2 linked regions of the Homo sapiens genome follow. The protein of the gene in region 1 interacts with the protein of each later gene in a biochemical or structural test. Each region holds a gene or a part of one and is shown in the gene's direction. Other genes may lie near its edges.

Evidence for each region.
Region 2: the proteins of SIVA1 (region 1) and ABL2 form a complex in vitro, tested with the Homo sapiens proteins (one study listed by BioGRID).

Annotation. Positions count from the first base shown.
Region 1 is NC_000014.9:104,748,816-104,756,153, forward strand, and holds the start of SIVA1 (apoptosis regulatory protein Siva), read left to right. Parts: upstream 1-4,331; 5' UTR 4,332-4,386; coding exon 4,387-4,504; exon of another isoform or gene 4,505-5,656; intron 5,657-6,814; coding exon 6,815-7,009; intron 7,010-7,338. UniProt on the Homo sapiens protein: Induces CD27-mediated apoptosis. Inhibits BCL2L1 isoform Bcl-x(L) anti-apoptotic activity. Inhibits activation of NF-kappa-B and promotes T-cell receptor-mediated apoptosis.
Region 2 is NC_000001.11:179,226,659-179,234,158, reverse strand, and holds the start of ABL2 (tyrosine-protein kinase ABL2), read left to right. Parts: upstream 1-4,481; 5' UTR 4,482-4,761; coding exon 4,762-4,918; intron 4,919-7,500. UniProt on the Homo sapiens protein: Non-receptor tyrosine-protein kinase that plays an ABL1-overlapping role in key processes linked to cell growth and survival such as cytoskeleton remodeling in response to extracellular stimuli, cell motility and adhesion and receptor endocytosis.

The DNA of each region.
Region 1 (7,338 bases):
GTGAATTCTTATCATTTTATGACAATATTTATTCAGAATGGCATCCATTCTGAATAAAAGTGGGACTTTCTGGTACAGAAGCAGGGCTCAGTCATTCTTGACAGTTTCTAGCTCCTCACCTCCTCCCAGTTGCCCAGGGTGGTCCACCCAGATCTCTGCTTTATACACCTGCCAGCTGGTGACCAGCTCCCTATGGGACACCTGGATACAACCTACTGGACTCAGCCCCTGGCCCCCACACCCCTCACGGACTGTGCAGACGTGCCACAGTGACCACCACCCAGTCACAGCAAGATGCCATGAAGCTGATGCCTGCCGGCTCGAAATCACACCCCACAGGAAATGCACTTGAGTAACAACACCCTGGACCTGAATACAGATTTGGTGCACAGGCCGCTGGCTCGCTCCCCACCATCTGGCTGGGCCTGCCTGTTCCCCGTGGCTCCCCCTCCCCACTGGCCTGTGAGGAACGCTGCCTCCTCGCTCCCGCCCGGTTGAGTCACACACCTGCTCTGCAGTTTCATGTGTTCTGCTGTGCTGCCTCCTCCAGCTCTCACCTGACCCTTGCACCCAAACCTCACTCTCCTGGTCAGGACTCTCCCAGAGAGACCATCATGATAGGAATGAACTGATCACTGCTCAGACAAAAGCCACAGGCTGCCTGCCAAAGCCTAGAAGCAAGCTGCTGGTGAGAGGAATGCCAGCACAGCTGGATACACAGGCCTGAGGCCATCAGCCAGGGTCAGGAGGCATCCCACGAGAGCACACACTGTAACCCCATGCCCACCGCCCCCAGAGCCCCATCAGGGAAGGGCCAAAGTTTACAGCCACTCTCCAGGAGAGACCTCAAGACGAATTAGAGGAAAACTATGACAATGATTTTGTTTAATGATAATTTTCCTTTTTCCTAGCACTCTGGAAAGCTGCCAGTTTCTTTACAAGTTAACCATCAATCTGATGCAGGGCAGGTGAGCCCCAAAATTGGGGCTTAACCCTGGAGGGTTCATGGCTTCACCCAGGAAGGCATTCAAGGGTGAGCCAGTGGTGTTAGCCAGGCAAGTTTGTTAAAGCAGCAGAATCCTACCCAGCAACCTCTGAGGAACCGGCATGTGGCCTGGGGGACAGCCCCACTCCATAAGCTGCCCGATGTTCTGTATCTGTCCACGATGGTGATGAGACCCTAGGAGAGTTGCAAGTCTGAACACAGGGAAATCTTTAGAAATCCCCACGATCCATAAGATTGAAAACAATCCTCCTCTCTGAGAACTTCATCTATTTCTGGGATAAACCAAATCTGTGTTTAGTCACACGTGACTCCAACTGAGTAACTTTCAAGTCATTTCCCTAAGGCAGAAAAAATTCTCCATTATGCCAGCAAAGTGGCAAGGAAGAGCCAAGAATGCTTGATCCCATCCCCACCACAGGGAACCCTGCACGGCAGGAGGAGAAAGGACATCTAAGCTGGAGACTGGTAAGGTTTCAGCCACCCATGGCTAGGAAAGCATACACTGCCTCTGAGGGGGCGTGGGCAGCTGCAACACGGGAGTCACGTGGGAGGGGTTTGCGGGACTCCAGGCATCACCTCTTCACACCGGAGGCAACACCGATGGAGTCGTGAGAACATAGTCCAGGTGTGTCCAGAATTGGTGGGTTCTTGATCTCACTGACTTTAAGAATGAAGCACTAGGTCCTCACAGTTGACTGTTACAGTTCTTAAAATTGTTATGTCTGCAGTTTGTTCCTTCTGATGTTTGGACGTGTTTGGAGTTTGTTCCTTCTGGCAGACTCACGGTCTTGCTGGCTTCAGGAGTGGAGCTGCAGACCTTCACAAGGAGTGTTACAGCTCTTAAGGCAGTGTGTCTGGAGCTGTTCATTCCTCCCGGTGGGTTTGTGGCTTTGCTGGCCTCAGAAGTGAAGCTACACACCTTCCCAGTGAGTGTTACAGCTCATAAAAAGTGTGGACCCAAAGAGTGAAAGAGCAAAGCCCCAAACATGTGGCAGAACACCAACACGTTCCCACTGCCTGCTCGGGCGGCCTGCTTTTATTCCCTTATCTGGCCCCACCCATATCCTGCTGATTGGTCCATTTTACAGAGGGCTGGTCTGTTTTACAGAAAGCTGATTGGTCCGTCTTGACAGGGCGCTGATTGGTGTGTTTACAATCCCTGAGCTAGACACAGAAGTTCTCCAAGTCCCCACAGAGCACTGATTGGTGCATTTACAAACCTTGAGCTAGATACAGGGTGCTGATTGGTGTCTTTACAAACCTTGAGCTAGACACAGAGTGCTGATTGGTGTATTTACAGTCCCTTAGCTAGACATAAAGGTTCTCCAAGTCCCCACCAGATTAGCTAGATACAGAGTGCTGATTGGTACATTTACAAACCTTGAGCTAAACACAGAGTGCTGACTGGTGCGTCCACAATCCCACAGCTAGACATAAAGGTTCTCCAAATCCCCACCAGATTAGCTGGATACAGAGTGCCCATGGGTGCATCTACAAACCTTGAGCTAGACACAGGGTACCGATTGGTGAGTTTACAAACCTTGAGCTAAACACAGTGCTGATTGGTGTATTTACAATCCCTTAGCTTGACATAAAGGTTCTCCAAGTCGCCGCTAGACTCAGGAGCCCAGCTGGCTTCACCTAGTGGATCCCACACCGGGGCTGCAGGTGGAGCTGCCCGCCAGTCCCGCGCCGTGCGCCCGCACTCCTCAGCCCTTGGGCGGTCGATGGGACCGGGTGCCGCGGAGCAGGGGGCCGCGCAAGAGCCCACGGCAGGGGGGAGACTCAGGCATGGCGGGCTGCAGGTCCTGAGCCCTGCCTCGCGGGGAGGCAGCTGAGGCCCGGTGAGAATTCGAGCGCAGCGCCGGCGGGCCGGCACTGGTGGGGGACCCGGCGCATCCTCCGCAGCTGCTGGCCCGGGTGCTAAGCTCCTCACTGCCTGGGGCCGGTGGCTCCGATTGCGGGGCCCGCCGAGCCCACGCCCACCCGGAACTCACGCTGACCCGCAAGCGCCACGTGCAGCCCGGGTTCCCGCCCGCACCTCTCCCTCCACACCTCCCTGCAAGCTGAGGGAGCCGGCTCCGGCCGCGGCCAGCCCAGAGAGGGGCTCCCACAGTGCAGCGGCGGGCTGAAGGGCCCCTCGAGCGCGGCCAGAGTGGGCGCCGAGAGCGAGCGAGGGCTGCCAGCACGCTGTCATCTCTCACAGGGCGAAGCCCACGCCACAGGACGGGTCGGTTCTGTACCCGCCGGGGCAGGGGAGAGCCGCCTCTGGTGAGCAGAACCCCGGAGAAGGGACGACGCGGGTGCACCTCGCGGCATGGGGACACCAAGTCAGACGAACCCGCTGTGCAAGAACATTTTCCACACAGCGGCGCATACCCCCGCCCGGGGGCGCTCGGCAGCCGCACGCGGCCCTCAGAGCGCAGCCCCCACACGCCTTTACTTCTGGAAGGCGGAGACCGCCACAGTGAGGAGCTAAGCCAGCTGAGGCAACACAGAAAAACCCCCGTTCCTACCCAAAACCAAAAAGCGGGGCGCGGAGGCGCGCGCCTGCGGTCCCAGCTACCGGGGAGGCCGAGAAGGGAGGATCGCCTGAGCCCGGGAGGCGCAAGCTACAGTGAGCCGAGACTGCCACTGCACTCAGTCTGGGTGACAGAGCGAGACCCTGTCTCTAAAGGGGAAAAAAGAGCTAGGAAGAAGCGGGCTGCCTCTTAACTTCGGAGAAGTAAATGAGGAACTATAACCAGTGTCTACCGTTTAGGAACCAAACAAAAGCTGACAGGAATCCCGCCACCGACCCAGCCGCCCCAGACTTTGCCCTGGCCTATCCCGCGCCGCTCCTCAAACTAGACCCGCCCCGACGTCGCCCTGGCCTATCCCACGCCGATCCTCAAACGAGGCCCGCCCCCGATGCACAAGCTCCGCCCTCGTTGCACCGTCCTGACCCTCGGCCTCGCCCCCGCCCCCTGGCTCTTCCCGCGCAGCCGAATGCCGCGACCTGGCTCCCACCCTTCGTCGCTTCGCGCCGCATAGGAACCCCGCCCCTAGTCTCTCCTCCCGCCTATCCTGAGCGGCGCGCGCACAAATCTCTCCCACGGACCCGCCCACCCTGATCCTCAACCTGGCCCCTGGCCTTTCCCGCGGCGTCGAGTCCAGTACACCGACGCACGAGTCCCACCCCCGATCTCTCCCTCGGCCTATCCCGCGCCGCTCCGCGCAGGAGTCCCGCCTCCCACTTCGCCCGCAGCCTATGACGCGCCGCGTCGCTCCCTCTCCTCAAACCCGCTCTCGCCCGCGGATGGGCGCGCAGCTGTGACGTCACGGCGTCGTTGGTAAGGGGCTGGCGGCCGGGGAGCTGCGTAGCTCCCGGCCCCGCGGCCATGCCCAAGCGGAGCTGCCCCTTCGCGGACGTGGCCCCGCTACAGCTCAAGGTCCGCGTGAGCCAGAGGGAGTTGAGCCGCGGCGTGTGCGCCGAGCGCTACTCGCAGGAGGTCTTCGGTGAGTGTCGGGCGGGCTGCCGAGGGTCCGCTGCGTCGGGGCCTGGAACGGGCCGGGCCTCAGCGTCCCCTCTGAGGCCTGAGCGGGGGGCTGGAGGGCCCTGCTTTCTGGCCCCGCGTTCCCGGAAGCTGGGAGGCCGCGGGGACACAAGCTGGCCACGCCCAGGGCTGGGGTCAGTGAGGGGGATGTGAGGACCCCAGCGTTCGCCCACCCTGTCCAACAGCCTGAAAGAAAAGGGTCCCTGCCCCTAGCCCCCGCGCCCTCTTCCACGATCCCGGTTAGTCGCCGCCCTGCAGTGAGCGGCACCCGCCTGGTGCTTTCTCAGGACTGTCCCGTGCAGGATGTCCTGGGAGAGGTTGGGGAGCGGGGCGTCCTGCATGGAGTCAACCCGAAGAGTGCCCCTCCTGTCCCAAGAGGTATTCATGGAGCGCGCGGCCCTGCCAGGCACGGCGGCTTTCTCGGGAGACCAAAGGCAGGCAAGACAGATGTGCCCCGTCTCCCGGGAGCTCCCCAGCCTAGTTGGGGAGACCAGCAGGAGGAGTCGCCACAGGTGGTCGGGGCAGGCACAGGTTTGTGCAGGCGCACCTGCAGGGATGGCACGGAAGGCTTCTTGGAAGAACAGTCTGAGCGGAATCCTGTGGGGGCGAGTAGGAGTTAGCCAGGCAGAGGAAGGGAAGGAAGAGGGCGAGGCAGAAGCCAGGCAGCAGGAGAGCGAAATAGGACTCCGTGTGGCTGCAGTGTCCAGTTCTGGGTGGGATGTGAGGGCAGTGAGCTCCCAGGCCTTCTCTGGCTTTCTCCTGTGGATTTCAGGCGTGTTGATCTTATTGATCATCACTCTGACTGGGGTGATTAATACCCTGGGGCAGGTAAAAAGTGGAGCTTACCTTGCCTAGTGATTGGGACACAAAGTCTGCACCTGTAGAGCAGTTAGAGGATGACCCGGGGTGTGTGATTTACCTGGTGCCGCTTGTGCCTTGGGAATGAGGGAAAGACTCTGCCTCCCGAGGTTCCTCTGTGCGGTGTCTCCAGTGTGCTAGGGCTGTGAAAGCGAGTGCTATTCTGGGCCATGGGGAGGTAAGGGGAATGATGCCGTGGGAACTGTGGCAGGACCGCAATCGTGTGCCCTCTCAGGACAGTTGAAAAATTCAAACACTGTGCAGGCAAGAAGAGGAAGATGGAAATGGGGCCTGGCTCAGTATGGCCCTTTATTCTTCCCGAGTGTCCTGACCTGGGCGTTGGCAGGTGTGTGCCACTCACCGGGTCAGGTCAGGGAGGTCTGCTGGGTGCAGTGGGCCTTCCATGGTAAATGCAGGACACCTACTTTGAACTGTGTGACAGTTTCCAAATTCCAGGCCACAGCTGTTACCCTGATCTCTTAACCTCGAATTGTCCACAAGGCCTTGAGGACAAGGATTAGCCTCACCACGTGTCTGTCCCATTCCTTTCCCCTTATAGATGGGGGAAGGTGTGGGGGGCCAGGAGGAAGGTGCAGGGTGTTGTGGGCTGGCATCAGCTACTCCATGTGAGTTACCCTGTCACTATTATTGCTGCCCACTTCATGTAGAGCCACATAGAGTTTCTGGGATCTCTGCCTTTACTGTGTTATGGTGAGGTGCAAAACAAAAAACAAAGCATTTCTGGGTCTGGCCCTGGGCATCTGATTTTTCAAAGCTCCCCAGGTGACTGAACTGTGGCCTGATGGAAAACCACTGCTCCCAGGGATGGGTGGGTGTTCTAGAACAAGAGGTCTGGAAGGTTCTGGGATGCTTGTCTTGCCAGCAACTCTGTAGCAGGTGAAGGGGGTGTGCTCTGGCCAGAGGCTGTAGGCCCAGCTCCAAGCCTCTGGCTGCTTCCTTGGCAGGGGACGAGTTTTGTGAATTAGTGCTCCACAGTGCAGAGCTCCCTCTGTGCATTCCACAGAGCCTGGTTTCCAGGTGGGGAGTGCTGGGGAAGCAGAAAAGGGAGAAAGGGGACAAGCTTAGTGAGGCGAGGCCAGCCGTGAATTGCAGAAAATGAGCCGAGTGATAGGAGAGGGAACCCTTGCATCAGACACAGGTGGGGCTGCAGGGCCAGAGCCTTCCTGGAGGAGATGACAGCTAAGCCAGGTAAGGAAAGGACGCACAAGCATTCTCAGCATAGAGGCAGAGCAGGACCCAGCTCGCCAGGGCACAACACAGGCTGGGGTTACTGGGAGACAGAGGGCACACAGGAGGACGATGGGGTTCATGTGAGGCTAGAAAGACTCAATGGCCATGCAGGGGCTTCGTTGGTACACAGTGAAGGACGTGAGAATGATTTATCTTCCCCCAGAGAAGACCAAGCGACTCCTGTTCCTCGGGGCCCAGGCCTACCTGGACCACGTGTGGGATGAAGGCTGTGCCGTCGTTCACCTGCCAGAGTCCCCAAAGCCTGGCCCTACAGGGGCCCCGAGGGCTGCACGTGGGCAGATGCTGATTGGACCAGACGGCCGCCTGATCAGGAGCCTTGGGCAGGCCTCCGAAGCTGGTGAGTGGCACCAGCAGCCCTTTGTGGCTGTGGCACTGAGGGCAGGTGGTGGCACGAGCATTTTTCTTGATTTGCAAGGTCAGGCTTTTCCTCCCTGGGTAAGCAGGACTCTGACCCAGAGCTTGGCCTTCTGGCTCAGAAGGCTCCTGTTATCAGGAGGTCTCACATTCAAGACTGGAAGTTGTTAAACAGCTTCTAAGTACTGGGCCAAAAAAGCAGCAGAGACTCCCCGGGTATCCCGTCTGCTTTCCGCCTGCAGCCCCCTCAGATAGTCCCACAAGGCTGGAAACATGCCAGTCCCATCCCTATGCAGTGTGGGGTCTCAGAGC
Region 2 (7,500 bases), on another chromosome or scaffold:
AAAAAGAAAGAAAAGAAAAAGGAAAATGCTATACGTAAAATTACAACAAAATTTTTTTCTCTCAATTTATCTACATAAACATTTTCAGCCCACGTAGATAAATATAGATAGATAAACATAACTATATAAACATGCATATATGCAAGAAAATAAAAGATTTGGGGAAACATGATAGCTTTCAAATATGTGAAAGATTTCATGTAGAATAAAGATTATATTTGTTCTGTGTAGCTACATGGTAGAATTAGAACTGGGGTGAAACAGGTGGAAGTTTCAGGGGAACATTTTTCAGTTTATCTTTAGGAAGAACTTTTTTTTTGAGACTGAGTCTGGCTCTGTCACCCAGGCTGGAGTGCAATGGTGTGATCTCAGCTCACTGTAAGCTCCGCCTCCTGGGTTCATGCCATTCTCCTGAATCAGCCTCCTGAGTAGCTGGGATTACAGGCGCCTGCCACCACGCCCGGCTAATTTTTTGTATTTTTGGTAGAGATGGGGTTTCACCATGTTAGCCAGGATGGTCTCGATCTCCTGACCTTGTGATCCGCCCACTTTGGCCTCCCAAAGTGCTGGGATTACAGGCGTGAGCCACTGCGCCTGGCCCAGGAAGTATGTTTTAATAATTAGAACCTTTTGAAAGAAATGGATACCCTCACTGGAATTACTGCAGAGAGGATTCCAGATTAGCCTACATGACCTCTAAGTTTCTTTCCAACTCTATGACACTTGAGTCATGTGTCAAAACAAAACAGCCGGGTGCGGTGGCTCACGCCTGTAATCCCAGCACTTTGGGAGGCCAAGGCAGATGGATCACAAGGTCAGGAGATCGAGACTATCCTGGCTAACACGGTGAAATCCCATCTCTTCTAAAAAACAAAAAATTAGCCGGGTGTAGTGGTGGTCGCCTGTAGTCCCAGCTACTCGGGAGGCTGAGGCAGGAGAATGGTGTGAACCCGGGAGGCGGAGCTTGCAGTGAGCCGAGATCGCGCCACTGCACTCCAGCCTGGGGGACAGAGCGAGACTCCATATCAAAAACAAAAAACAAAAAACAAAAAACCATATTTGAGGGATGTAGAGGAAGGTAAGCGAATTTTATAACGAAAGAATTATTACCAGTTGTGGTTAAGGCCTGTACTGAATAGAGTCCGAGGAAACTGTTAGGTCTGTATTAATAAGTCTGAGGTTCTCTTATCAAGGAGGCAGGATCTGAATAGAATACTGAAGAGGACAGTAGAATCCTGTAAGGGAGTCACTCGAGACTTATATTAGGGAGAATATAATTATTGCAAAACTCATAGCTAAAAGGGATACATCTCAGAAATAGGCTAATTGGATAAAGTATGTATGCCTGCCATAGGAAAGGTGGAGGTTGGAGGAACAGGAGATGGAAGAACATTAGGCAATTATAATCCAGTTATCCTGGAAAATAACTTCGAAACACTAGGTGAAACGTTTATTTTGTTTATTTATTTATTTATTTATTTATTTTTGAGACAGAGACTCCCTCTGTCACCTAGGCTGGGGTGCAGTGGCGCAATCTCCTGTCACTGCAACTTCCGCCTCCTGGGCTCAAGCAATTCGCCTGCCTCAGGTTCCCCAGTAGCTGGGATTACAGGCACGCGCCCCCACGATTGGCTAGTTTTTGCATTTTTAGTAGAGACGGGGTTTCACCATATTGGCCTGACTGGTCTTAAACTCCTGACCTCAAGTGATCCGCCCACCTTGGCCTCCCAAAGTGCTGGGATTACAAACATGAGCCACTGTGCCCGGCCCATTAGGTGAAAATTTTAGACTTAAGACTTTGTACGTAATGAATGAGAGGGAGAGTGTGGTCAAAGCAATGAGAGAAGCAGTTTCTTTGAGTGAGTTGCTTGGTGCTAAAGGTGAGGAATCTCTAGGAAGAAAGGGCTAGTAGCGGGAGAAACCAGCGCAGAGATGCCTAAGCTAACACTGTGTCTTACATAACGCTGTTTATATAGATGAAGGGAAGAGGTAGATATGAGAGATACTGTAAAACTGTAAAAAGTATGGCAATAGCCTAGAAATGCAGACTGGTGAAGTCAGGGATTGGTGAGGCATTACTCACAAGCTCCTTCCTTCTGGAGAGAGTGGTGTTGCTCCTGTGATAAGGATGATGAGGATGAAGAGTATCTGTGTCTTCAGCACGCCTTACTGCTGTTGGTGATGTGTCTGATCTTTTATGCTGGCCTCTGGCCATTGCTCAAATTTATATATATATATATATATAAAATTTGAAAAAGTTAGGCTTGTAAAACCTAAAACCATTATGTTTTTTGTATTAATAGTATATGCATATATGACACCAGTTATATGCCAAATACTGTTTTAAGTACTATACATATATATTGACTAATTTAATTTTCACAATATTCCTATAAGGTAGATACTATTTGTTATCATCATCAGTTTACAGATAATGTACTGAGACACAAAAAGGTTATGTACTTTGCCCAGATCAAATAGTCCATAAGTATCAGGGCCAAGTTATGAACCCAAGCAGTCTGGCTTCAGAGCCCCTGCCCTTAGCCACTGCACTCTACTGCAGGCTGAGCAGCCCTTATCAGAAATGTTCGGACCACAAGTGTTTCAGATTTGGGAATATTTACACACACATAATGAGATATCTTGGGCATGCGACCCAAGTCTAAACACAAAATTCATTTATGTTTCATATACACCTTTATACACATAGCTTGAATGCAATTTAATACAATATTTTAAAAATTTTGTGCATGAAACAAAGTTTATGTTAAGTACTTACGTGAAATGTTCCACCTCTGGCATCATATTGGTGCTCAAAAAATTTCGAATTTTGCAGCATTTTGGATTTTCAGATTTGAGATGTTCAACCCATATATTCATCTATCTTTATATAGTATGCATGAATTAGCAGAGAAACCAAACCATTATCCCCAAATTAAAATTTTCTCCCATAATAAAAATCAAACAGTAAACCAAATTCCGGCTCTGTGACATCTTTATCCCTTTCGAATGAATTTTTTTCAGTAGTTGCAAACACTGGGAATTAGAAGAAAAGACAGGTATTTTAAACACAGGGAAACTTTAATCCAAATGGAAAGTTCATATTTTATCCAGTGTTTACACATAGTGTTTCCGTTCCCATTTTGGAGTTAATTTCAGTTATTTCTGGCTACACCCTAGATGGCAATGGAATAATTTCATAGTGCTTTTACAACAGGCAATATCTACGTCAGTGGATGGTTCATCTAAGGTCAACCTGGTTCAGGAAAGATATGCAAAGGAGAGCTTCATCCACCTCTTCTCCCAACCCTACATTTCCAGTGGTTGTTTTGTTCCTTCTTTGCAGTGGCTCCCGTCCTGTCTAATTTAAGCAAAATTTCAGTGTAGTACCTCCATTAACTGATACTTTTTATAAAGCAAATTGGGAAGCCAAAAGAATAACAGGAGAATGATCAAGATTTGAGAATTAAAAAAAATTGAATTAAGATGCAAGTAAACACAGTGGGAGAGGGGGATGGCGAGTCAATTGTATATAGTATATGTGTATGTATAAAACGCTTCTTTTCTGCCTCATTCACTCTCTTTAGACTGCATAAGCTAAAATGAGTAAGTTCTGACTCAGAAACAGGGTCAAAGATATATATTTTTTCTCCTTTGTCATCAAAAGAAGACCTGACCACGTGCACAGTGTATAAAGGATGCCAGTGGGAAGATTAACTTTACTGTCAGGCATTGTAAGGAAACAGAAACTCACATATGGTGAGATGGTAAAGGAGTTCAAGAGGAATTCATGGTAATATAATATGAGGAATGGGGCTACAATTGCGTCCCCAATGAGACTATAGAAGGCACACAATCCAGGCCAGTGCGATTTAACATCATGAAATAATCTCCAAAAATTAAAATCAAATAAGGTAGCATTTTACTCTCTTCTTGTAAATTTTATACCATTTTAATTTTTACTGGAGGCCTGCTGCTGACAAGGGTGTTTAAAAGAGATCCCCCTGGGTATTTTAGAGCTCCTTAACTGGATGGCAAGGACCAAATAAATGCCTTGTGCTTTTCTGCCCCACCTGTGCCTGCACCTGAGCTGCGCACGCGGTGGCACTGAGCCCTCGACTCACTCATTTGACAGGTGGAGGTGGGATGGGGAAGGCCGGAGACCGACCAACCCCAAAGGCGGTAGCGTGTGGAGCCGAACGCGGGAGGGGGTCGGCTGAGGCGGATTGAGGGGGGGGACGCCGAGGTGCGGCGACAGGACGCGGAGGACGAAAGACCTCAAGCAGCGGTGGCCGGCAAATGAGGTGGGCACTGGGGGACCCACCCTGCGAGGAGGCGGGGGCGGGGACGGGGGGCGCGGCGCGGCAGGGCGGGGCGGCAGCCGGGAAGCCCTCCTTCCCCGCGGCGGAGGTGACTGGCGGGCGGGGGGCGGGGGGCGGGGGGCGGGAGACGCTCTGTCCCACGCTTTCCCAGCGCTCGGTGGTTTAAAGATGGCGGCGGCGGTGGCGGCGGCGGCGGCGGCGGCGTTGGGGGCGCGGAGCCGCGACAGGAGGAGGGAAAAGCAGAATCTGTGAGTCGCCTGGAGGCAGCGCGGCGGCTGCCGTGAGGAGGCCGGGTGCGGAGCCGCCGGTGGCCCAGCCACTCAGGGCCAGGGCCTGGGCTGGGAGGGAGAGACCGGAGCAGCGCCAGGAGCCCGAGGCCGGAGCCGAGGAGGAATGTGACCAGGGGTCGGCGGGGGCGCGGGAGTACGCGAGAGCAGGGATGGGGCAGCAGGTGGGCCGCGTCGGGGAAGCTCCGGGGCTCCAGCAGCCTCAGCCCCGCGGGATCCGGGGCAGCAGTGCAGCCAGGCCCTCCGGCCGCAGGCGGGACCCGGCGGGGCGCACCACAGAGACCGGCTTCAATATCTTCACCCAGCATGGTGAGTGTGTCTGGGAGCCGGCATGAGAGCGTGGGGGAGGCCGGGGGTGGGGTCGGGGCGGGGTGGGTGGCGGACGGGCTGCCCGAGGGGTCGGAGGGTGGAAGGTGCCTGAGAGTGGGGGCGGAATCCGCTGCCATCTGGTCCAGTCCTGGGAGGCGAGTCACACCCCTCCCCCCTCGCGTCTCTAGCCTGGCTGGCAGATCCCGGGGGCGGAGAAGGAAAGAGAAGTGGGTTTGGGGACCCTGGATGGTCTGTCCTCTACTCTGGGACGGGACTATGCGGCTGCAGAAAGAAAGTGAATGGCAGCTTCAGGAGAGGGAAGGATGAAGGGCAGTATTAGCTCAGTCCCAGAGGTGGGAGCATAAACCCGTCGTTAGTGAAGGGGAAATGGGTTGTATCCTAAGGGATTGGGAAATGGGAACTGAATTTCAGGAGATTGTGGAGTACAAGGTATGTGTTTACGTTAGGTGATGAGCAGTGTCAGGATAGTGAACTGTGGACAGTGTCAAATGCTTTTCTGTAGGGAAGATGAAGTTAGCATCATCTTATCACTTTTGACATGCTTTTGTGGTTTATTTTGTTTTGTATTTCGTTTTTACTAGAAATGAAAGGCTTTGCCAAAGCCTCTGTACTATGCTTCAGAGTAGGACACACAATTCTGAGATTGCTGGCAAGGGCTAGAGGTTGGTGGGCATGGTTAGGACGTCAGTCAGGATATGAACAAGTTTTCCTTTGTAGTGTGTGCGTGTGCCCATATACATACATACATGTATGTATGCTCCCTGTAGTCTGAAACCTATTATTTTGATCTCATTGTCAATGTATTTTTAGAATAGTTGTCTCCAAACTTTTTTTGTCTTGTTTTTTTGTTTTGTTTTTGTTTTTGTTTTTTTTGAGACAGAGTCTCGCTTTGGTCCCCATGATGGAGTGCAATGGCGGGATGTCGGCTCACTGCAATCTCTGCCTCCCGGGTTCAAGTGATTCTCCTGCCTCAGCCTCCCGAGTAGCTGGAACTGCAGGTGTGCACCACCACGCCCGGCTAATTTTTGTATTTTTGGTGGTGGTGGGATTTTGTCATATACTCCTGACATCAGGTAATCTGCCTGCCTTGGCCTCTCAAAGTGCTGGGATTACGGGTGTGAGCCACCACCGTTCCTGGCCCAAACTCTTTTTTTTTTTTTTTTTTTTTTGGAGACGGAGTCTCATTCTGTCGCCCAGGCTGGAGTGCAGTGGCGTGATCTTGGCTCACTGCAACCTCTGCCTCCCAGGTTCAAGCGATTCTCCTGCCTCAGCCTCGGAGTAGCTGGGATTACAGGCGCCCGCCACCACACCCGGCTAATTTTTTGTGTTTTTAGTAGGGTGGGGTTTCTCTATGTTGGCCAGGCTGGTCTCGAACGCCTGACCTCATGATCCACCCGCCACAGCCTCCCAAAGTGCTGGGATTACAGGCGTGAGGCACTGCGCCTGGCCACATGTCTCCTATTGAAGATGTGCTTGAGTGTCTCTTTCGGGTATATGAACACTTTATGAAGGTGATATATGAGCTAATCTTTATTAAAATCACTTCCTAAAACACAGGATGGAAGAATGGATTAGTAGTTTACAGGGAAGAAATCATCCAAGTAAGCTTCACTTTGTGGGAAGTGTTACTATGCATTAAACTTGGCCTAGTAGGCAATGGTGATCCTCTTGCTTTACTATCTTATTCGGTATGTAAGATTTTCCAAGAAAGAGGAAGTCATGAAGAATGGAATAGGAAGACATTTTGAGGATTTGGATCTATGGAGAGGGAGAACAATTTGGGTAGAAGAAACAACTTGAACGGGAACATGGGAATAGATATAATTTGTTGATGGGCTAGTGAGGAGACAGCTGTCAGGAATGAAGCATCATTATGAGTTGGAAGAAAAAGATCATAGAGCAAAAATTGGAAGAGTCAAGTTCTGGTTCTGGCTCCACCTGCCTGGGTGATTTTAGTCACCATCTTTGGGTTTCTTTATCTGTAAAGTGAGGAGGTTGGACTGGATGATCTCTAAGATACTTTCTGGTTTTAAGATTTTATGATTCTAATTAAGAAGCAGTAGAAAGAAAATTTTGATAGGCTGGATGGGACTGGGTTATGGAAAATCTGGCAGAGAAGTTTATATCCATTTACCTGATTGGCTAGTCTTTACCTGAAAGACTGGCCTTGAGTGGTGGCAGTGGAAATGGGAGGAGTAATTTCAAGGGTCCTTTCATTCATTCAACAAACAAGGGTTTTTTTTGAGCACCTGTTATGTACTGGATTGTGGGAATGTTGCTGTGAACATAACAGAGTCCCTGCCCTTTGGAACTTAAAGGACTTTATGATTTGATAGAGGATGAAAGAAGAGAGATCACTTTGGAGTATTTGTTAAGGGCATGAACTCTGGACCCATTTTTCCTGGATTTGAAACCTTGCTTGGCTGCTTATGAGCTTTGTGACCTGGGACAAGTTATTTAACTTTTTGTGTCTTGGACTCTTCATTTGTAAAGTGGTGATAATAATAGTACCTAGTATTAAATGAATAGTGGCTGGGCACATAGTATGAGCTAAATGTGTG